Linked DNA regions of Homo sapiens. The protein of the gene in region 1 interacts with the protein of each later gene in a pairwise test. Each region holds a gene or a part of one and is shown in the gene's direction. Other genes may lie near its edges.

Region 1 (7,026 bases):
TTTCTGTCTTTCATGACATTAACATTTGTCTCGTAGAATTTCCCACAATCTGAATTTGTCGGATTGTTTTTTCATAATTATTTTCAGATTAAACCTTTTTTTGGCAACAGTATTCATACATGACCTTGAGTCCTTCTGTGCACAGCATAGCAGGAGGCACATGATGTTCTTTCTTTCTTTCTTTTTTTGAGACGGAGTCTCACTCTGTCGCCCAGGCTGGAGTGCAGTGGCGCGATCTCGTCTTACTGCAACCTCCGCCTCCCGGGTTCAAGCAATTCTCCTGCCTCAGCCTCCCGAGTAGTTGGGACTACAAGCACGTGCTACCATGCCTGGTTATTTTTTGTATTTTTTGGTGGAGACAAGGTTTCACCATGTTGGCCAGGCTGGTCTGGAACTCCTGACCTCAAGTGATCCGCCTCGGCCTCCCTTTTTTTTTTTTTTTTTTTTTGCTTTGTTTTTTTGAGATGGAGTCTAGCTCTGTCACCCGGGCTGGAGTAGAGTGGCGTGCTCTCGGCTCACTGAAACCTCCGCCTCCCGGGTTCAAGCTATTCTCCTGCCCCAGCCTCTGGAGTAGCTGGGATTACAGGCGCCCGCCACCACACCCAGTTAATTTTTTGTATTTTTAGTATAGACAGGGTTTCACTGTGTTGGCCAGGCTGGTCTCGAACTCCTGACCTTGTGATCCTCCTGCCTCGGCCTCCCAAAGTGCTAGGATTACAGATGTGAGCCACTGAGCCAGGCCCTCCCTCTCTTTTAAAAAATAAAATAATAATGTCACTTTGGACTCATGGATTAATAATAAAAAAAATCTATGTGGGCCGGGCACTGTGGCTCATACCTGTAATCCCAGCACTTTGGGAGGCTGAGGTGGGTGGATGGCTTGAGGCCAGGAGTTCAAGACTAGCCTGGCCAACATGGTGAAACCCTGTCTCTACTAAAAATACAACAATTGGCCGGGCACTGTGGCTCATGCCTGTAATCCCAGCACTTTGGGAGGCCAAGGCAGGTGGATCACGAGGTCAAGAGATCGAGACTATCCTGGCTAACACGGTGAAACCCCGTTTCTACTAAAAAAATACAAAAAAATTCGCCAGGTGTGGTGGCGGGCACCTGTAGTCCCAGCTACTGGGGAGGCTGAGGCAGGAGAGAGGCAGAGCTTGCAGTGAGCCGAGATCACGCCGCTGCACTCTGGCCTGGGTGACAGAGCGAGACTCCATCTCAAAAAAAAAAAAAAACAATTAGCTGGGTGTGGTGGCGGGTGCCTGTAATCCCAGCTACTCGGGAGGCTGAAGCAAAAGAATCACTTGAACCCAGGAGGCGGAGGTTGCAGTGAGCTGAGATCATGCTGCTGCACTCCAGCCTGGGCAACAGAGCGCGACTCTGTCTCAAGAAAAAAAAGAGAGAAAAAAATCCACGTGGTTATTACTTTTGATAGTCTAATTGTCCCAAATTTGGTTGGTGGTAGCCCTTTCAGACTGGTTCTTGTGTCCTTTTGACTTGCCTCCATTAGTTATTGAGTACTTTCTTCTTTATGATACCACAAGATGTTCCAGGCTAACCTTGTATTTCCTTTTCCTGGCTTGGGACCAGCCATATATATTTTTAAAATTCTGTGTTCATACTGATACCTCCGCTTTGAATCCAACACCACAAGGCTCTTTCTTACCTTTCCGCGGTCTGAATTGTATCTCCTACAGTGAGAAACCACCTTCCCCAAATAATCAGCACACTGATTCATTTGCCCTCTCCTGTAGTATACGGGCAAAGCTTTAGAGTCGTCACAGCAGTACCAGCAGTAAGAGTAAACTTGCTAAAATTCATGACTTGTTTGCAGTTTCTTTTTCTTTTTTTGAGACAGGGTCTTGCTCTGCCGCCCGGGCTGGAGTGCAGTGGCGCAATCACACTTCATTGCAGCCTCGACTTCCTGAGCTCAAGTGATCCTCCCACCTCAGCCTCATGAGAAGCTGGGACTACAGGCGCACATCACCATGTCCCGCTAATGTTTTTTTTTGTTTTGTTTTTGTTTTTTTGAGACGGAGTCTTGCTCTGTCGCCGGGCTGGAGGGCAGTGGCACGATCTCGGCTCACTGCAACCTCTGCCTCCCAGGTTCAATCAATTCTCCTGCTTCAACCTCCCGAGTAGCTGGAACTACAGGCACATGCCACCACGCCCAGGTAATTTTTGTATTTTTAGTAGAGAACAGGGTTTCACCATATTGGCCAGGATGGTCTTGATCTCTTGACCTGGTGATCTACCCGCCTCGGCTTCCCAAAGTGCTGGGATTACAGGCGTGAGCTACCATGCCTGGCCATGTTTGTATTTTTTGTAGAGACGGGGGTCTTGCTGTGTTACCCAGGCTGGTCTCGAACTCCTGGGCCCAAGCGATCCATCTGCCTTGGTGTCTCAAAGTGCTGGAATTCCAGTCATGAACCACTGCACCCGGCCTGTTTGCAGTTATTTTTGCCCTTGAGGTTTATCTTTCTAGGAGAACATAGGAGAACCCAGAATTACTGTGATCAAAAGTTACTTGGGCTCTTTTTTTTTTCTTGTCTGTGAGATTGTTATCAATTTAAAGTATAGTTAGCTTGATTTGTTTTTGTTTCAGTTTTAGAGTTTGCTTTTCTTTTTGGTTTAAGTTTTTGAAATATGGAAGTCATTTTATGTGTACAAGTATATTAAAAAAACTTATTAATAAGTATATAAAGAATGGAAGTCTCTCTACTCATCGTAGCCCTTCCGTTATGTAGGTGACTATTTCATTACTTTCTGGTTGATTCTTCCTGTGTTTCTTTTGCAAAAATAAGCAAATTCATATGTGCATTCTTACTTCCCCTTTCTTACATAAGGGGTAGCATATGATTTACACTTTTTGTGCTCTGCTTTTTTTTTTTTACTTAATATATCCTGGAAAGCATTCCACAGCAGTTTACTGAGCTCATCTTTATTCTTTTTTTTTTTTTTTTGAGACATGGTTTCACTCTGTCACCCAGGCTGGAGTGCAGCAGCGAAATCTTGGCTCACTGCAACCTCCGCCTCCTGGGTTCAAGCGATTCTCCCACCTCAGCCTCCTGAGTAGTTGGGATTACAGGCTTATGCCATCATGCCTGGCTAATTTTTGTATTTTTTTGGTAGAGATGGGGTTTCACCATGTTGGCCAGGCTGGTCTCAAACTCCTGACCTCAAGTGATCCTCCTGCCTTCGCCTCTGAAAGTGCTGGGATTACAGGTGTGAGTCACCATGGCTGGCATCTTTTTTACATCTGTGTAATACTCTATTGTATGATGCACCTCGTATATTCAAATAGTCACATTTAGGTTGCTTTAAGCATTTTGCTAATGCAAATAGTGTCATGTCGAATAACGTGTGTGTTTGTCATTTCTTATATCTGGGTAAATGACTAACAGGAGCAGGATTATTAGGTTAAAAGGAAAATATATTCTTATTATCTTCTCTTCCTTTTTTTTAATATGAAAAGTATAACATACAGACTGTTGTACATCTTGCTTTTTTTAACTACTCATCTTTTTGGAGACTTTTGCATATCAGTACCCAGAGAACTGCTTCCTCTTTTTAAAATTTTTAACAGCTGCAAAGCATTTTTAAAAATAGCTGCGGAACAGTCCATTGTATGACTACCATTGGTTTAATCAGTCCCCTATTGATGGTTTCTAATCCTTTGTTATTCAAAACAGTGCCGCAATTAATGCACCTGTGTATGGGTATCATTTCCTGATTGTCTCTATCATACCCTTCTCTTCTCTTTTTGTGGTAGATGTTACTGGGTTTTTGTATCTGTATTTGATCCCATATCACAAAAGAGTCCGAAGATTGTAATTGCCCGATCTTTTAATCAGGTCCAGAAGAATTTGACTGGAATGCTAGAAGTTTGTGTGTGTGTGTGTGTGTGTGTGTGTGTGTGTGTGTGTGTGCTTTTTTTCCTTTGAGACAGTCTTGCTCTGTTGCCCAGGCTGGAGTGCAGTGGTGCAATCATGGCTCACTGCAGCCTCTACCTCCTGGACTCAAGCAATCCTCCCACTTCAGCCTCCTGAGGAACTGGGACTACAGGCACGCACCATCGTGCCTGCCTAATTTTTTATTTTTTGTAGAGATGGAGTCTCACTGTGTTGGCCAGACTGGTCTTGAACTACTGGGCTCAAGTGATCCTCCTGCCTCGGACTCCCAAAATGCTGGGATTACAGGTGTGAGCCACTATGCCCAGCCTGAAGTTTTTATTTTAAAGCAAACTTCTCATGGAAGTCTAACACACAGGAGATTGCACAAGTTGTAACTGTATGCTTGGAGAATGTTCACAAAATCCATACCTTTGTGTATCCAGAACCCCGACCAAGAACAGATGCCGGGCCCCCAGTCGCTGCCCCATCAAGGGTAATACTATCTTGACTTCTAACACCATAGATTTAGTTTTTCCTGTTCCAAAACTTTAAGCAAATTTCTGCCCAGCTTTTAAATGTTGCATTGCCTTAGCACTTGGTTGTGGACCATTTTCTGCTGTTGACTATATAAATGTCCACCAAAGTCACTGTTCTAACAAGGTGATTGCTGCTTGGTTTCCTTGGCCTTAACTTGCCAGTGATTACTTAGCATGGGTCAGCCAGGCCTCCTGCTGAACTCCCAGGAGCAGAGCATGTTTGTACCCTCCAGATTCCTATAAGACGCCCTGTCCAGGTGTCCCCCAGCGTCTCTACCCTGTATGTCCCTAGCACAGCTGCTCGTCCTCCCCTGGAACCTCCGCCTCATCTCACACAGGCTTGTCATGATGGGTCTCCACCATCCACTCGGGGTTAAGTGGGCAGGGAGTCTTCCAATTGCTCCCTTTCCCCTACTCCTTAAAACCAAGACCCCTTCAAACTTGTCTCCTAAGGGTCTCAGGAAGCACATCCTGCCCACCTTGCCTTTCCAGCCTCATCTGCTGCCCCCTCATTTGCACTCTGCTTTGGCCATAGTGGCTTTCTTTCCCTTATGATGGGTGGCTCATGCCTATAATCCCAGTGCTTTGGGAGTCCAAAGCGGGAAGATTGCTTGAGGCCAGGAATTTGAGACCAGCTGTGCAACACAGCAAGACCTCCTCTCTACAAAATATTAAAAAATTAGCATGGTAGTCTGTCCCTGTAGTCTAGCTACTCAAGAGGCTGAGGCAGGAGGATGGCTTGAGCCCAGGAGTGCCACTTTACTCCAGCCTGGGTGACAGAGTGAGACCCTGTCTAAGAAAAAAAAAAATGTGAAGCTCCTTCCTAGTAAGGAACTGTCCCTGTACGATGCTTTCCCATCTGCCTAGAAGGCTGTTTTGCCCGGGGAACTCCTCTTCATGCTTCAGGTTTTTACTACCACTTGTATTTAATTTCCCTGAGGCTGGGTGCAGTGGCTCATGCCTGTAATCCTACCACTTTGGGAGGCTGAAGCAGGTGGATTGCTTGAGCCTAGGAATTCAAATTAGCCTGGGCGATATGGCGAAACTTAATCTCTACAAAAAAATATAAAAATTAGCTGGGCCTGGTGGTGCATGCCTGTAGTTCCAGCTACTCAGGAGGCTGCGCTTGGAGGATCACCTGAGCCTGGGGAGGCTGAGGCTGCCGTGAGCTGGGATTATACCACTGCACTCCAGCCTGGGCAACAGAGAGAGACCCTGTCTCAAAAAAAGTTTTTTAATTAAAAAAATTTAATTTCCCTGCCTCTCCAGACCAGATTAGATCACCAGGACATGATGTGTATGTTTTCACGGTGGCTGTGCTTGCCTTTTGTATGATTTACTGCAGAGGTGATTGACTGTTTCATGGGGAGAGCAGGGACCACATCTGTCTCACTCATTCTTCCAGCACCATATAAGTGTCCTAATAAATGAACAAAGGCAAAAGGAGCAAAGGGAGGCTAGCCTGTGACCAAGGCCGAGGCTCAGTCTGTAATTCAAGGTCAAGGAATAGAATGTCACTTGGCTTTCCCTGTATGGGATCCCCTCCCAGGTTCCTTTCCTACCCTTGGATGGGGTTTTCAGAGAGTAGATTTTGTGCCTTGAAGCAGAGGGCGGGAGCAGCTGGTAAGATGCAGCTGGTGGAAGGGTGGCTCTGGGAGGAGGGGAGCTGCCTCCATTGCATTCACGGCACTGTGGGAGTATGTGCTGGGTCCTGTCCTGGGGAGCTTGCAGCCCAGATGAGGAGTAGAGAGGGACTGGGTTGGGTGTGGCCCTGATCTCATCCTTCTCTGGCTTTTCTTTCCTTGCAGTTCAGGACAAAGAGGTGTGGGCAGGCCACTGGGCCAGCTGGTAACATCATGGCAGGTAAGGAGAGGGGCAGGCTGTGTGGGTAGGACATGACAGTGAGCATAGCGTGGATGGCCCTCTTCCTGGTTCCCTTATCTCCCCTAGTCTTTGGAGGCCAGGTTCTTTCCATCTTACTGTCCCCAAGCTTTCCCCACTCTCTCCACTGAGGCCTGTCTGAGAACTTCAACATGACATTGTCTAGCCCTCTGTCAGATCTTTGGTCCTATGGACCAGGAATTGAGCACCTTGATGTCCTTGTCTTACTGTCCATCTGCCTGATTAGCTGCATGAGTGGCTCAGCCCTCCTCCCCTCTGTCTCTATTGCTTTCTAATACTCTGAGGCCTTTTTTATCTGGTTCAGAAGGCTCAGAGGTGTAGAATGCCAGAGCTGGAGGGAACTTTAGGGACCGTGTAGCCCAGCCCCCACTCCAGCAAATAAACTGAGGTCTAGAGAGGGGCGATGATTTGCCCCAGAGCACAAATGCTGAGTGGAGGCTGGAACCCACGTCTGTAGATTCTCACACATCCGCTTCTTCTGCCTGGAGCTGCCCCCACTGAGAGGGTGGTACCTTGAGGCCCTGAGACAGTGTCACTCAGAATTAAAAAATAATAAATGCTGTCTGTCAAGGTGACATTGTTTTTTATTCTGAGTGACACTGTCTCAGGGCCTTTGGCTACTTTGGGATCATCACAGCTGACCCGGGGAGGTAGGGACGGCTGGGTGGGGAAAGCAGAGTGGCCGGTGGCCACAG
Region 2 (7,026 bases), on another chromosome or scaffold:
GGGCTCACTCTTGGCCAGTCACCCAAAGTCCATAGTTACATTAGGGCTCACTCTTGGCCTTGAACAGTCATTGGGTTTTAACAAATGTGTAAGGACATGATTTTGCTTTACAGCGTCATATGGAGTTGTTCCACTGCCCTGAAAATCCTCTGTGCTCCACCCACTCATTCCTTCCTGCCTGCTGACCCCTGGCAACCACTGATCTTTTATTCTTTCTATAGTCTTGCCCTTTCCAGAATGTTACATATTGGGAATCATACAGTATATAGGATTTTCAGATTTGCTTCCTTTGCTTAGCAATATACGTCCCAGCTTCCTCCATGTCTTTTCATGGCTTCATAAAGCATTTCTTTTTAGCACTAAATAATATTCCATTGTCAGAATGTATCTGTTCAGCCCCTCACCTACACAAGGACATCTTAGCTGATTCTAAATTTTCGCAGTTAGCAGTAAAGCTGCTAAAACATCCATGTACAGGTTTTAGTGTGGACGTAAGTTTTCAACTCCTTTTGGTAAATCAACAAGGTTGCAATTGCTTGATCATATGGTAAGAGTATGTTTAGCTTTGTAAGAAACCGCCAGGCTGTCTTCTGAAGTGCCTGTGCCATTTTGCATTCCCACCTGCAGTGAATGGGAGCTCCTGTTGCTCCACATCCTCCTCAGCATATGCTGGTGTTAGTGCTCTGGGTTTTGGCCATTCTAATAGGTGAGGTCCAGGTTACTTCTTATTTCTTTCATGGATTGTGTCTTTGGTGTTGTATCTAAAAAGTCATTGCCAAACTCAAGGTCCCTTAGATTCTCTCCTGTGTTATCTTCTAGGAGTTTCATAGTTTTGCATTTTACATTTAGGTCTGTGTTCCATTTTTGGGTCAGTTTTTTTTAAAAGAGGGTAAAGTCTGTGTCCAGCTTCCTTTTATTGCATATGGATGTGCAGTTGTTCCAGCATCATTTGTTGAAAACACTCTTTTCTCCACCTGTTTTGGTAGGTGCATGTTTTTGGGATTTTATATTTATGTGTAACTTACATAAAATTTGAGACATCAATATTATAATCAATTTCTAGGATACTCATTTCTTTTGTACTTCCATGAAAAGTTTAATGTTCAGGTTGAGTCTTTACATTGCTACTACTAAGGTAACATAACCCTGTTTGAAAAAACCAAAATCTCAATGTCTCATCTGTGACAGGATCGTCTTAGCTGTATTACTGTATTTTTCAATATTACTTTCTTTTCTTTTTAAGACAGAGTCTCACCCAGTCTGTTGCTCAGGCTGGAGTAGAGTGGTGCCATTGGCTTACTACAACCTCTGCCTCCTGGGTTCAAGCCATTCTCCTGCCTCAGCCTCCCTAGTAGCTGGGACTGCAGGCGCCCACCACGACGACGCCTGGCTAAATTTTTTTGTATTTTTTAGTAGAGACAGGGTTTCACCATGTTGGCCAGGCTGGTCTTGAACTCCTGACCTCAAGAGATCCGCCCACCTCGGCCTCCCAAAGTGCTGGGATTATAGGCGTGAGCCACCGCGCCCGGTGGTGTTTTCTCTATCATAAACATTAACTATTCTTGGTGATCTCACACAAGTTCTTCAGAAGGCATATCAGCTTTGAAAGTAACACTTCAAATATACCATCTCATGTGTAACAGTACTTTTTTTGTTCCTTTTTTAATTCATCATTTTTTGTTTTTCCAAATTTTAGACATTCTTTTTCTCCTTTCACCTAAAAAGCAGCCTTTCTATCTGCTGGTTGACTCAGGGATTGATTTTGTATTTCTGGCCGTTGGTGAACAGATCCCTGCATTTCTGTCATGATGTGGTTGCTCCTGCCCAGCAGTCAGCAAACTGGTCCATACGCTGAAAATGGTTTTTACATTTTTTAAATATTGCTTAAAAAAGAGAAGAGGAATATGCAGGAGAAATAATACATAGCCCACAAATCCTAAAATATGTATCATCTTGTCAACCCCAGTTTGCCAATCCCAAATCACTTTTCCTTGTTTTCTGCTTTTGATGTATATATTATTGGGTTTGAGCTGCCTTATTATGCTGTATGGTTGGTAGGAAATGGCGGCGGAGGAGAAATGGTTTTCTGAATATGAGGCATATTTATAGGAAGATTGAAACATTTTGTGATCTTTACCTTTTGACACATTTCTTAAAATGTTGCTATGAAAACTGAAAATCTGTCAATTATTAATAATTGTCAGAAGTCTTTAAAAATTGATAAAACTATCCTTTATAAATTGCTGTATACTTTTATATACTTGAATGTGTGTTTGGTAAATCTTTAAAGTTTGGTAATTCACATAATTGATTATGAGCCAAATGACTCCAATGTCCTACAAGTCCTTGAGGAGTTAGTGTATATATATAACATATATATATATAATATACACTTGGATGGGATTATTTGAAGCTTGTCTTTCTAGGACTGGAGATTTTAACCTGAGATCTGCGGGCTTGGAAAGTTGGTGAACTTCCTAAAATAGTCGGGGGGTAAAGAGGGGAGGAGCAGCTATGGGAAGAGGGTTCATATTTTTCAGTAATTTTTTTTTTCTTTTTTTACATTTTTGTTGTTAAAAAAAAAAAAATTACTATTATTTTGAGACCAGATCTCACTTTGTTGCCCAGGCTGGGGTGCTGTGGTGCAATGATGGCTCACCACAGCCTCGAACTTCCCAGACTCAAGCGATCCTCCCACTTCAGTCCCCCGAGTAGCTGGGACTACAGGCACATGCCACCATGCCAAGCTGATTTTAAAATTTTTCTGTAGAGATGAAGTCTCACTGTGTTGCCCAGGCTGTTCTCGAACTCCTGGCATCAAGCAGCTTTCCTTCCCCGGCTTCCCAAAGTGCTGGAATTACAGGCATGAACCACCACACCCAGCCCGTTTTTTTCAAGAGTTTATGACCCCAAATGGTTAATTACCACTGATCTAGGAGAAAAAATACCTGTCTGTCTTTTTGGTCTGGCTGTTTTTAGAGGGAAGTAAATGAAATATAATGGTGACATTTAAATATCCGAAGGCTGTACAGGTAAATGTAGCTGTAATATTATGTACCTGAATATGGGCGAGAATTTTGTGGGTCACACTTGCCACACTTCACGTGTCCACACTTTTCAGAGTATGTGCTGTTCTGTTTTCCAGATGAGCAGAACTACATTCTCCGAGATGCTGAGGCAGAAGTACTTTTCTCTTTCAGCTTGGAAGAATCCTTAAAACGGGCACACGTTTCTCCACTCTTTAAGGTACACTTTAAGGGAAAAGTAAATCAGTCCAAGTAAGCATAACACACGGACCTGCTCAAGGGAACTACCAGGTGATTTGGTGGGAAGTGCGCCTCCAGGGGAGCTGGGCTCACCCTGCATCCCATTTACCTCTTGGCTTCCTTCTTGGACATTGCCACTGGAGGTCTTCCTCCTGTGAACCACAGCACATCTCTAGAGAACTTTTCTTTACTATAATGTTTAAAAATAAGTACACAAATTTAATAAATACATCTATGAGAAATAAGTTATTCAAAGAATAGGTTTTTGAGTAATTGGTTAAGAGGCATGTTCATTTTTCTGCTTTTAATAAATCTTTAGAGGACATCGCTTACTTCGTACTATTGTCAGTAAATGTATATTCAGCTGGAGAAGATACTTGGGAAAATATTCAGTGTGTGCATAGATATAATTCAGTACTAAAAGATTTTTAAATGTTAGATAAGTGTTAGAACAGCTAGGAATTTTTTTTGTACCAAAGAACTAAGTAAATCAATAAAGATAATCGGTTCTTTAACCTTCTTAAGGAGTCAACAGGAATTAGAAATTATTTGCAGTTTCAGACAGAATAGTATTTTGTGGTATCCTCAGGAGCAATCTTGTTAGATAATTAAATCTTAAGCATCAATATCATTTCCTGCTCTGAGTTCAAATAATATGGAGAAAATAAAGAAAAGGGATATAAGCCAGGCAGCATGCTATGCCAGAGGCTGTTGCTGGGCAGATAAGTGTGGTGAAATATAATGCTGATTTAAAATTGTATAGAAATTGTGAAAAATATTTGTAATATTCTTGCTTATTCACAAAACACTTTGTTTTAGGGACTTAAGTTCTGGTTACTTTAAATCATCTTCAGGCATACTTAACATGTGAAAATGCTTACATTCCAAATTTACATAGCTGGATTCCTCTTCCACTTCAGATTGAGTGCTAGTAGGAGAATAGTACCTTCATAATGTCATAAAATTTGAAATTTTGTCAAAAATCTCAGGGCAGAATCTATGAGAATTATGTACTCTAAAAATTAAAGCATTTTAAGAACATAATACATATATTTTCATTTAATTTTAGGCAAAATATTTTTACATCACACCTGGAATCTGCCCAAGTCTTTCCACTATGAAGGCAATCGTAGAGTGTGCAGGAGGAAAGGTGTTATCCAAGCAGCCATCTTTCCGGAAGCTCATGGAGCACAAGCAGAACTCGGTGGGTAGAGTGGAGTCCGCCAGCGAGTCCGTCATTGCCCTGTATCACATTCAGCGTTCGGTCACTGAGAAACTCATTTTCTTTTCCTTAGAGTTTGTCGGAAATAATTTTAATATCCTGTGAAAATGACCTTCATTTATGCCGAGAATATTTTGCCAGAGGCATAGGTACGTTTCCCCGCTTACCTGTGTGAGTATGTGTGCACGCACAGCAGTGGATCTCTAACTAAAGTGTCTGTTTCCACCCTGTTCAGATGTTCACAATGCAGAGTTCGTTCTGACTGGAGTGCTCACTCAAACGCTGGACTATGAATCATATCCTTTCCAAAAGAGAATTAAAAAGTAGACGGGTTAGATATGAAATGGATTTCCCAGGTTAATAAGGCAGTACCTTTCCTGTTTTGCAAGCCATTTTTCCTTTCTTTGCTATTGTGATTTATGCAGTGAACAATTCTTTTCTCTTCAGAATATTCATTTGAGTTGCTAGTAAAAATATTCTCTTAACTTACTGAGAGTTCAGTTTTAATAGGTGATGTTAATTAGAAAGGATCTATACTGTCTAGTTTATGGAGGTATTAAAGAATTTGACAATTAGATAAAATAGAAAATAATTGCAAAAATAAATATATGTTTCTTTTTATCAGCTCACCTTTGAGTTTGTAGTTTTCCAAATGAAATTTAGTTCGTATATAGTCTTTGTACTCAGGAACTTTGGGATGGGAGATAAATTACTACTAAATGGAAGCGGCAGAATGAATACTTCATCAACATGTCAGGAAAATGCAAAGGTCAGTCTTTAGAATATTGACACCTAGGCTTTTTTCTATTTCAGACATTCAGGAAAAAATAAAGCTCATCATCTGTTATTTGAATTCCTTATTAAAAATCTCTGAATTATTATTTTAATGTAGGAACAGCCTATCAGTGAAGCAAAACATGCCTTACAGGTCCTTATGGGAAAATTCTGTTTCCACTTCCGTTTCCCATTGCAGAGCACCTTCTCTCAGGGCTGTTCTCAGGACTTCTCCCTGGGCCTCCTGCAATGAGGCTGGAGCTCCTCCTCTCTGTGAGGGTGGGAGCCTCTGCCACCTCTGACCAGTGTCAACCTCAGTGGACCTTTCCTTAAGCAGGGGAATTTTGTGTTTGGGATAGGACTGCTTCAGTAAGGCGCAGAGGTCAGAATGATACCCATCCTTGCCGAGTTTTTTTTTCTTCGTGTGTGCCTGTTTCATCCAGGTAATTACATTTAAGTATATTTACATTTAAATACACTGACATTCATCCAGTTAATTACATTTATCAAACATTTTCCTCTTAACGCTAAAGAGCTTATGGTTATAATAGTAGACAGAAGACCTTGATATCACTGAGAGAAAAGCACTTTTAAGAAGTAAAATTTGGCCGGACGTGGTGGCTCATGCCTATAATCCCAGCACGGGAGGCCAAGACAGGTGGATCACCTGAGATCAGGAGTTCGAGACCAGCCTGGCCAACATGGTGAAACCCTGGCTCTACTAAAAATAGAAAAAATTAGCTGGCCATGGTGGCGGGTACCTGTAATCACAGCTACTTGGTGAGGCAGGAGAATCACTTGAACCTGGGAGGCAGGGGTTGCAGTGAGCCAATATCGCGCCATTGCACTACAGCCTGGGCAACAAGAGCGAAACTCTGTCTTTAAAAAAAAAAAAAAAAAAAAAGAAGTAAAATTTGCCTCAGTCCCAGAATCCAATGTCATGTTTAGCCATAAATAAATAGCCTGTCTAGTTGGAATGAGGCTTGGTGCAGAAACGCTCTTACCATTCATACCAGAGCTTGCTGTATTCCATACCGCCATCTATTAGAAAATTATTGTAGGAGCTACTGATAGGAATGATAAGAGGCCTGTTAAATTTTTACAGATATGCTATAAGCATTTGGTTTTTATACAACATGTACTCTTGCATTTTTTCCAGACTTTTTCCTAACATTCATGTTTGTATTTGTGAAAGCCTGTTCTACACTACATTTACTTTCAGAAGAAATTGCTTTAAAAGTCATACAGGAGACTTATGAGTATTACCTTGGGGGCCTTTTTTCATATCCATAGCTTGATGAATTTTGCCCAAAGTGGACGGTTTAGAATTGCAGAGGTCACTACCTGCTCCTGCAGGTATAAGTAGGAGTCAGCTATTTGTGGTGGGGCTTTGGGGATGTCAGCTCTTGGGGGTTGTGTGTTGTACATGTTAATTTAAAGGACATTTCAGCTATTGCTGGGCCTCAGTTCTGGCCGCATGGTGGATACCTTGCGGAGCTGGCACAGGTGCTGATGTCCCCGGGCTGAGTGAGCCTGTGTGTCGGGGCTGAGGGCCTCCTGTGATGTGGGTATGCAGCAGAGCGACTGGTTTGAATGGGTAAGAAAGAGGCTGTAGCATTCCTTCAAGGGTGTCTCTGAAACTGGATGATGAATGTTGGAACCCTTGGTTTCATGTTTTTCTTTTGCCTTGTGTTTGAAAGTCGTTTTCCTCAACAAGCCTACATATAAGTTTAACTGATGGCGTCTAGGCTGCCGTGCATGTCG
Region 3 (7,026 bases), on another chromosome or scaffold:
CGAGTCTTCTCTAGACCAGGTTTCTTCTAAGTATTTGGCATCACCAGGAAGAGCCCTGTACAAGGTGCTGGTGGTTTTATCCTTAGAGCCCAGATGTGAGGTGCTCACGTGTGTGCCTGGGGTTAGCAGTTGGTGTTTGTTGAATGAATGACTAAAATGCAGTGGGGCGGGGAGTCATGATAAGGTAGAATTTTATCTGAGGTGGAGTTTGCTTCTGAAATCAGGCAGTAAGGTGAATGTGATACCCAGTTAGGAGTATGTAATGCTGCAGGTAAACTGTAACAGCAAATGAAAGCAGTATTTCTCCAGGAAGGAAACAGACCCCTGGGTCCTCGGGCTGGGTTGGAAAAAGCCATTTGTAGAGAAATGGAACATGGTGGCTAGCCCTGCACAAGACATAGAGAAGAGACCCTTAACACTCCAGTTATCTCCAAGTGGGCAGTTAGAATGAGTGCTTCTAGGCCGGGCACGGTGGCTCACACCAGTAATCCCAGCACTTTGGGAGGCCGAGGCGGGCAGATCTTGAGATCGAGAGATCGAGACCATCCTGGCCAACATGGTGAAACCCTGTCTCTACTAAAAATACAAAAATAGCTGGGTGTGGTGGCGGGCACCTGTAATTCCAGCTACTAGGGAGGCTGAGGCAGGAGAATTGCTTGAACCCGGGAGGCAGAGGTTGCAGTGAGCTGAGATAGCACCACTGCACTCCAGCCTGGGCGACAGAGCGAGACTCCCTCTCACAACAAACAAACAAACAAACTGCAGTGCTTCTAAGGTGAGACTCATCGTGATGTTCTGATTAGAACGTTCTCGTGCCACAAAGTCCTGAGATGTGTCCAAGAAGCACCGTCTTCTGTCAGACACACCTCCTGCCCCGCCATAGGCCTTCCCACTGTGGCAGCAGAATCTGTGCTAGGCCTTCCTTCGTGAAAGAGGACAAGATCAGGGCTCACGTGACTGGGGCCGCTGTGACTCTGAGCCTCTGCGTTCTGTCAGATGAGGGTAGTGGTGCTTCCCCTGCGTCCTGCTGGGAGAAAAAAGGAGGCAGTAAATGAAAGGTGTCTCATCACCTGCTTCCTAAATAGAAGGGACAAAGAGGCTGAAAAACAGTAATAGTCTTGTTTTATGAAAATGCCACCCCTAATCTAGGAGCTGGGACTGCCATGCCAGGACCCCTCAGATAATGACATCCCTGAAGAGGATTAGCAGCTAGTCTGTTATCAGTCACAGGCAGTTCAACCCAGAAGATTTAAGGATTAGATTACCCAACAACCTTGAGTGTAGATTTTGTCTCTCATCACCCTTTGCATTAACTTTGGGTGCATGTGTGTTAATGAGGAAGTGTGTTCTGCTTTATTCTTGGTACATCACAGACATTTAATAGATACAGGTCATTAGAAATAAAAATTGTTTTAACTTGTATGAGTTTTGCAAGCATTGATATTTCAAATTGAAATTGCAGAAATTAGGACAGCATTTCATTTTCTTTTGTTTTTTTGAGACGGAGTCTCATTCTCTCACCCAGGCTGGAGTGCGGTGGCGTGACCTTGGCTCACTGCAACCTCTGCCTCCTGGGTTCAAGTGATTCTTCTGCCTCAGCCTCCCGAGTAGCTGGGACTACAGGCGGTCGCCACCACGCCAGGCTAATTTTTTGTATTTTTAGTAGAGACAGGGTTTCGCGGTGTTAGCCAGGATGGTCTCGATCTCCTGACCTTGTGATCCGCCCATCTTGGCCTCCCAAAGTGCTGGGATTGCAGGTGTGAGCCACTGCGCCTGGGCTTTTTTTTTTTTTTTTTTTTGGTTGGGGGACGGAGTCTCACTCTGTCACCCAGGCTTGAGTACAACGGTACGGTTTCCGCTCATGGCAACCTCTGCCTCCTAGGTTCAAGTGATTCTCCTGCCTCAGCCTCCTGGGTTGCTGGGATTACAGGCGCCTGCCATGACACCCGGCTAATTTTTGTATTTTTAGTAGAGATGGGGTTTTGCCATGTTGGCCAGGCTGGTCTTGAACTCCTGACCTCAGGTGATCCACCCACTTTGGCCTCCCAAAGTGCTGGGATTATAGGCGTGAGCCACTGAGCCCAGCCCCAAGTTGGTCTTGAGCTCCTGGACTCAAGTGATCGTCCAACCAGCATCTCATTTTCTAAAGAAAGAAGTACTTAGACCAGGTTTGGGACATGTCTCTGAAAATTCTGGGCTGGTGCAGTGGCTCATGCCTGTAATCCCAGCACTTTGAGAGGCCGAGGCAGGCGGATTGCTAGAGTCCAGAAGTGAAGACCAGGCTGGGCAACATAGCAAAACCCCATCTGTACTAAAACTAGAAACAATTAGCCGGGTATGGTGACATGCAGCTGTAGTCCCAGCTACTCGGAGGCTGAGGTGGTAGGATCACCTGAGCCTGGGAGGCTGAGGCTGCAGCAAGCCATGATTGCTCCACTGCACTCCAGCCTGGGCGACAGAGCAAGACACTGTCTCAAAAAAAAAAAAAAAAAAAAAAAGGAAGTTCTGTATTGATCAATAATTTCCTCCTCAGGACAGACCTGCATATGCCACAATTTAACTTTGTTGCAACATCATTCTACATTTTGCATGAATGGTTTCAAAAAACTTATTTCTATGACAGAGAACTTTGTCATTTATTCTTGACATATTAAACCTGAGTGACATTTTTAAATTTTTGTGTTGTGTTGTGAGTGCTTAGTGAAGATTCCTTGAATATGGATGTGAATGAATCTTATTTTTCATGGGTTTATAATTGTATTGTCCCTTTAAATATTCTACATTGAACATGTATCACCAGCAGAAATAATCATTTACGAGGTGAAGTGTCCAGAGCCATGTAGTGTCTGCATTGCTGTGTCCAGGGATTCTTTGTTTGTTTGAGACGGAGTCTCGCTCTGTCATCCAGGCTGGAGTGCAGTGGCACGATCGTGTCTCACTGCCGCTTCCACCTCCCGGGTTCAAGTGATTCTTCTGCCTCAGCCTCTTGAGTAACTGGAATTACAGGCGTGTGCCACCACGCCCAGCTAATTTTTGTATTTTTAGTAGAGATGGGGTTTCACCATGTTGTCCAGGCTGGTCTCAAACTCCTGAACTCAAGTAATCAACCCACCTTGGCCTCCCAAGGTGCTGGGTTTACAGGCATGAGCCACTGTGCTCAATCTGCGTTCTGAGGCATTCTGTGCCTGTTATGAAATCATGATGCTGGCAGGTCGGAAGATGGAATCGACTTCCCAGCCCCATCGGCTGTGCCCTGCCCTCCTTGCTGTCTCTAGAGCGCGGCTGACTTCGGGGAGAGCTCTCCCTGCCCTGTGCCTCTATTTTTTCACCAGGTAGGGTGGAAATGTGTTCTAGTGAAACTGCAGAACGAAAATATCCCGTCTTACTCTTGACCCTTGAAGAAGCAGGAGCTGAATTCAGGTGCCAGAGGCTGCGTCCGCGCGCTCCACATCAGTCTCAGAGTGGAGGCGAGCCCAGGCCAGAGGCCTCTACCCCGGACGAGGCTGCAGGTGCCTGACGGGAGGAGTGACTGCAGCTCAGCAGAGGGAGTGTGTGGAGTGTGCGGCCCTGCCTGGCTTTTATTTTGCTCCTCCTGTTATTGGGAGGGATTAGCAGCAGAGCGAATGTTTGGATCTTTGCTGAGCAGTCCCATCGGATTTTTCTTTATTAAATAGGATTGTGTTTTATTGTAAGAAGGTTTCCCTAAGACAAATAACGAAGGAAATTCTGGGTCCAGGAGTACAGACTGTAGCTTCTGTCATCTCTTGCCAAGTTCGTAGCCCTCAGATGGTGTCTGTCTTTCCCCTTTGCTTGCGGGGCCTTTTACCACAGCACTTTGGTGTTCTTTTAGCTGCTGCGATAGGACTAGCTGTTAAAATCTGAGATTTTACATTTTTGCCAGTCGCAATAAATTTTGTTAGTTCTTTCTTGATGTGTTCTTTAAAATAATAATGCTTTTTTTTTTTGGGTGGGGGACAGAGTCTTGTGCTGTCGCCCAGGCTGGAGTGCAGTGACGCGATCTCGGCTCACTGCAAGCTCCGCCTCCCGGGTTCACGCCATTCCCCTGCCTCAGCCTCCCGAGTAGCTGGGACTACAGGCGCCCGCCACCACGCCCGGCTAATTTTTCGTATTTTTAGTAGAGATGGGGTTTCACCGTGTTAGCCAGGATGGTCTCGATCTCCTGACCTTGTGATCCGCCCAGCTCGGCCTCCGAAAGTGCTGGGATTACAGGCGTGAGCCACTGCTCCTGGCCTCATCTTTTTTTTTTTTTTTTTTTTTTTTGAGACGGAGTTTCACTCTTGTTTCCCAGGCTGGTGGAGTGCAACGGTGTGATCTTGGCTCACCGCAACCTCTGCCTTCTGGGTTCAAGTGATTCTCCAGCCTCAGCCTCCTGAGTAGCTGGGATTACAGGCGTGTGCCACCACACCCAGCTAATTTTGTATTTTTAGTAGAGATGGGGTTTCTCCATGTTGGTCAGGCTGGTCTCGACCTCCCAACCTCAGGTGATCCACTCACCTCGGCCTCCCAAAGTGCTGGGATTACAGGCGTGAGCCAACGCACCTGGCCTCATCTTGTTTTTTTTTTTTTTTTTTGAGACAGAGTCTTGCTCTGTCGCCCAGGCTGGAGTGCAGTGACTCAGTCTCGGCTCACTGCAAGCTCTGCCACCTGGGTTCATGCCATTCTCCTGCCTCAGCCTCCCGAGTAGCTGGGACTACAGGCACCCGCCGCCACGCCCAGCTAATGTTTTTTGTATTTTTAGTAGAGACGGGATTTCATCGTGTTAGCCAGGATGGTCTCGATCTCCTGACCTCGTGATCTGCCCACCTCGGCCTCCCAAAGTGCTGGGATTAGAGGCGTGAGCCACCGCGCCCTGCCACATCCTGTTTTTTTTACAACAGGGTGTCACTCTGTCTCTCACCCAAGTTAGAGAGGAGTGACACAGTCTTAGCTCACTGCATTCTCCCAGGCCCAAGCAATCCTCCTATCTCAGCCTCCCAAGTAGCTGGGACTTTAGGTATGTGTCACCACAGTTGACTAATGTTTTAATTTTTGTAGAGATGGGGCCTCCACATGTTGCCCAGGTTGGCCTTCCTGGGCTCGATCCTCCTGCCTCAGCCTCCCAAGGTGGTGCATGCCTACAGTCTCAGTAGATTAGAATCACCCTAACCCTCAGTAACTGAGATTGTAGGCACGCACCACCTCACTGACTCACCTCAAACTCTCTTTTTTGAGATGGAGTCTCTGTCACCAGACTGGAGAGCAGTGGTGCGATCTTGGCACACTGCAACCTCCGCCTCCTGGGTTCAAGCGATTCTCCTGCCTCAGCCTCTGTAGCAGCTGGGACTACAGGCATGCGCCACTACGCCCGGCTGATTTTTGTATTTTTTAGTAGAGACGGGGTTTCACCATGTTGGCCAGGATGATCTCGATCTCTTGACCTCATGGTCTGCGCACCTTGGCCTCCCAAAGTGCTGGGATTACAGGTGTGAGCCACTGCGCTCGGCCCATCTCAAACTTTTAATAAGGCTCTTCGTATAGAAATTTTTAAAAAATTAAAAACATTTTTGGCCAGGCTTAGTGGTTTAAGCCTGTAATCCCAGTGCTTTGGGAGGCCAAGGCAAGCAGATTACATGAGGCCAGGAGTTTGAGACTAGCCTGGCCAACATGGCGAAACCACGTCTCTACTAAAAATACAAAAATTTGGGCAGGTGCAGTGGCTGACACCTGTAACCCCAACACTTTGGGAGGCTGAGGTGGATAGATCTCTCGAGTTCAGGAATTTGAGACCAGCCTGGGTAACATGAGGAAACCCCATCTCTGCAGAAAATACAAAAGTTAGCTGGGCGTGGTGGTGCATGCCTGTGGTCCCAGCTACTCGAGAGGCTGAGGTCAGGCTGAGGTGGGAGGATCCCTGGAGCCTGGGAAGCGGAGGTTGCAGTGGGGGATGAAAAAGAATACCCCGTGTCCAAATAGCAAAACACTCTGAAATGAGGCAAACCGTGGTTTGTTGAACAGGTGTTCTGGGACAAGGTTGCCGAATATGCATTAGCCGTAATCCCCAGGACAGCCATGCAGGGTGGGTCTTAAACAGTTTTTTAGATTCTCGAGTATAAAGGTATAATATTGAAGAATAAGCACAAATAATGTCATCATACATGTTAAAGTGACAACACAGGATTTACAAAATTACCCTTTTTTCCCCAAAATTACCTCTTACGATGTGGTTTCTGTTGGTGCTGTTTTCTCTTGCATCATCCCGCCAGGTTGGGTAACCCTAACTGATTGTCACCAGCAGACCAACAGACAGACTCACAGCATCCTTCTCCCTGGTGTGAGCACTGCTTAATTCACATTTATGAAAATACTTTAAGACAAGGGCACTGTAACTCACATAGAATCTGAAGTGGCCTTGAACAGGGAGCTGGTCCAGCTGCCTCTTAGTGTGTCTGACCTCCAGGTGGGCGGACTGAGATGCGTGCAGGTGTTCATGGTATAGGCATCCTTGTAAACCTGCTCTGGTTAAGGATAAATAGGCAAAGTTGTGCTAATGCTGTTCCTACAGCAGCCTTTGCCCTGGACTGACTCCAGAACAGCTGGCTGACTGACAGCTGCCTCCCAGTAAAGCCTTAAACAGGCTTATCTTATATTTTTAAAAGGCAAAGGACAATAAGGCAGATTAATAAACTGTGGGGGTTTTTTTGTTTGTTTTTGTTTTTCTTGAGACAAAGTCTCGCTGTTGTACCCCAGGCTGGAGTGCAACGGCGCGATCTCGGCTCACTGCAACCTCTGCCTCTCGGGTTCAAGCGATTCTCCTGCCTCAGCCTCCAGAGTAGCTGGGATTACAGGTGCCCGCCACCACGCCCGGCTAATTTTTGTATTTTTAGTCTAGACGGGGGTTTCACCATGTTGGCCAGGCTGGTCTCGAACTCCTGACATCAGGTGATCCGCCTGCCTCGGCCTCCCAAAGTGTCAGGATTATAGGGTGAGCCACCGTGCCTGGCTTTTTTTTTTTTTTCCTGTCTTTTG

What was found.
Region 2: the proteins of SCAMP5 (region 1) and PAXIP1 interact in a two-hybrid assay, tested with the Homo sapiens proteins (one study listed by BioGRID).
Region 3: the proteins of SCAMP5 (region 1) and DNAJC5 come close enough for resonance energy transfer, tested with the Homo sapiens proteins (one study listed by BioGRID).

What each region holds. Positions count from the first base shown.
Region 1 is NC_000015.10:75,005,555-75,012,580, forward strand, and holds part of SCAMP5 (secretory carrier-associated membrane protein 5), read left to right. Parts: intron 1-2,106; exon of another isoform or gene 2,107-2,158; coding exon of another isoform or gene 2,159-2,174; intron 2,175-4,336; coding exon of another isoform or gene 4,337-4,386; intron 4,387-6,237; coding exon of another isoform or gene 6,238-6,285; coding exon 6,286-6,292; intron 6,293-7,026. UniProt on the Homo sapiens protein: Required for the calcium-dependent exocytosis of signal sequence-containing cytokines such as CCL5. Probably acts in cooperation with the SNARE machinery.
Region 2 is NC_000007.14:154,944,123-154,951,148, reverse strand, and holds part of PAXIP1 (PAX-interacting protein 1), read left to right. Parts: intron 1-1,658; exon of another isoform or gene 1,659-1,851; intron 1,852-3,058; exon of another isoform or gene 3,059-3,145; coding exon 3,146-3,246; exon of another isoform or gene 3,247-3,251; intron 3,252-3,375; exon of another isoform or gene 3,376-3,456; intron 3,457-4,296; exon of another isoform or gene 4,297-4,335; coding exon 4,336-4,470; exon of another isoform or gene 4,471-4,556; intron 4,557-4,561; coding exon 4,562-4,637; intron 4,638-4,655; exon of another isoform or gene 4,656-4,723; coding exon 4,724-4,784; exon of another isoform or gene 4,785-4,789; intron 4,790-6,528; exon of another isoform or gene 6,529-6,984; coding exon 6,985-7,000; 3' UTR 7,001-7,026.
Region 3 is NC_000020.11:63,898,102-63,905,127, forward strand, and holds part of DNAJC5 (dnaJ homolog subfamily C member 5), read left to right. Parts: intron 1-7,026. UniProt on the Homo sapiens protein: Acts as a general chaperone in regulated exocytosis. Acts as a co-chaperone for the SNARE protein SNAP-25. Involved in the calcium-mediated control of a late stage of exocytosis. May have an important role in presynaptic function.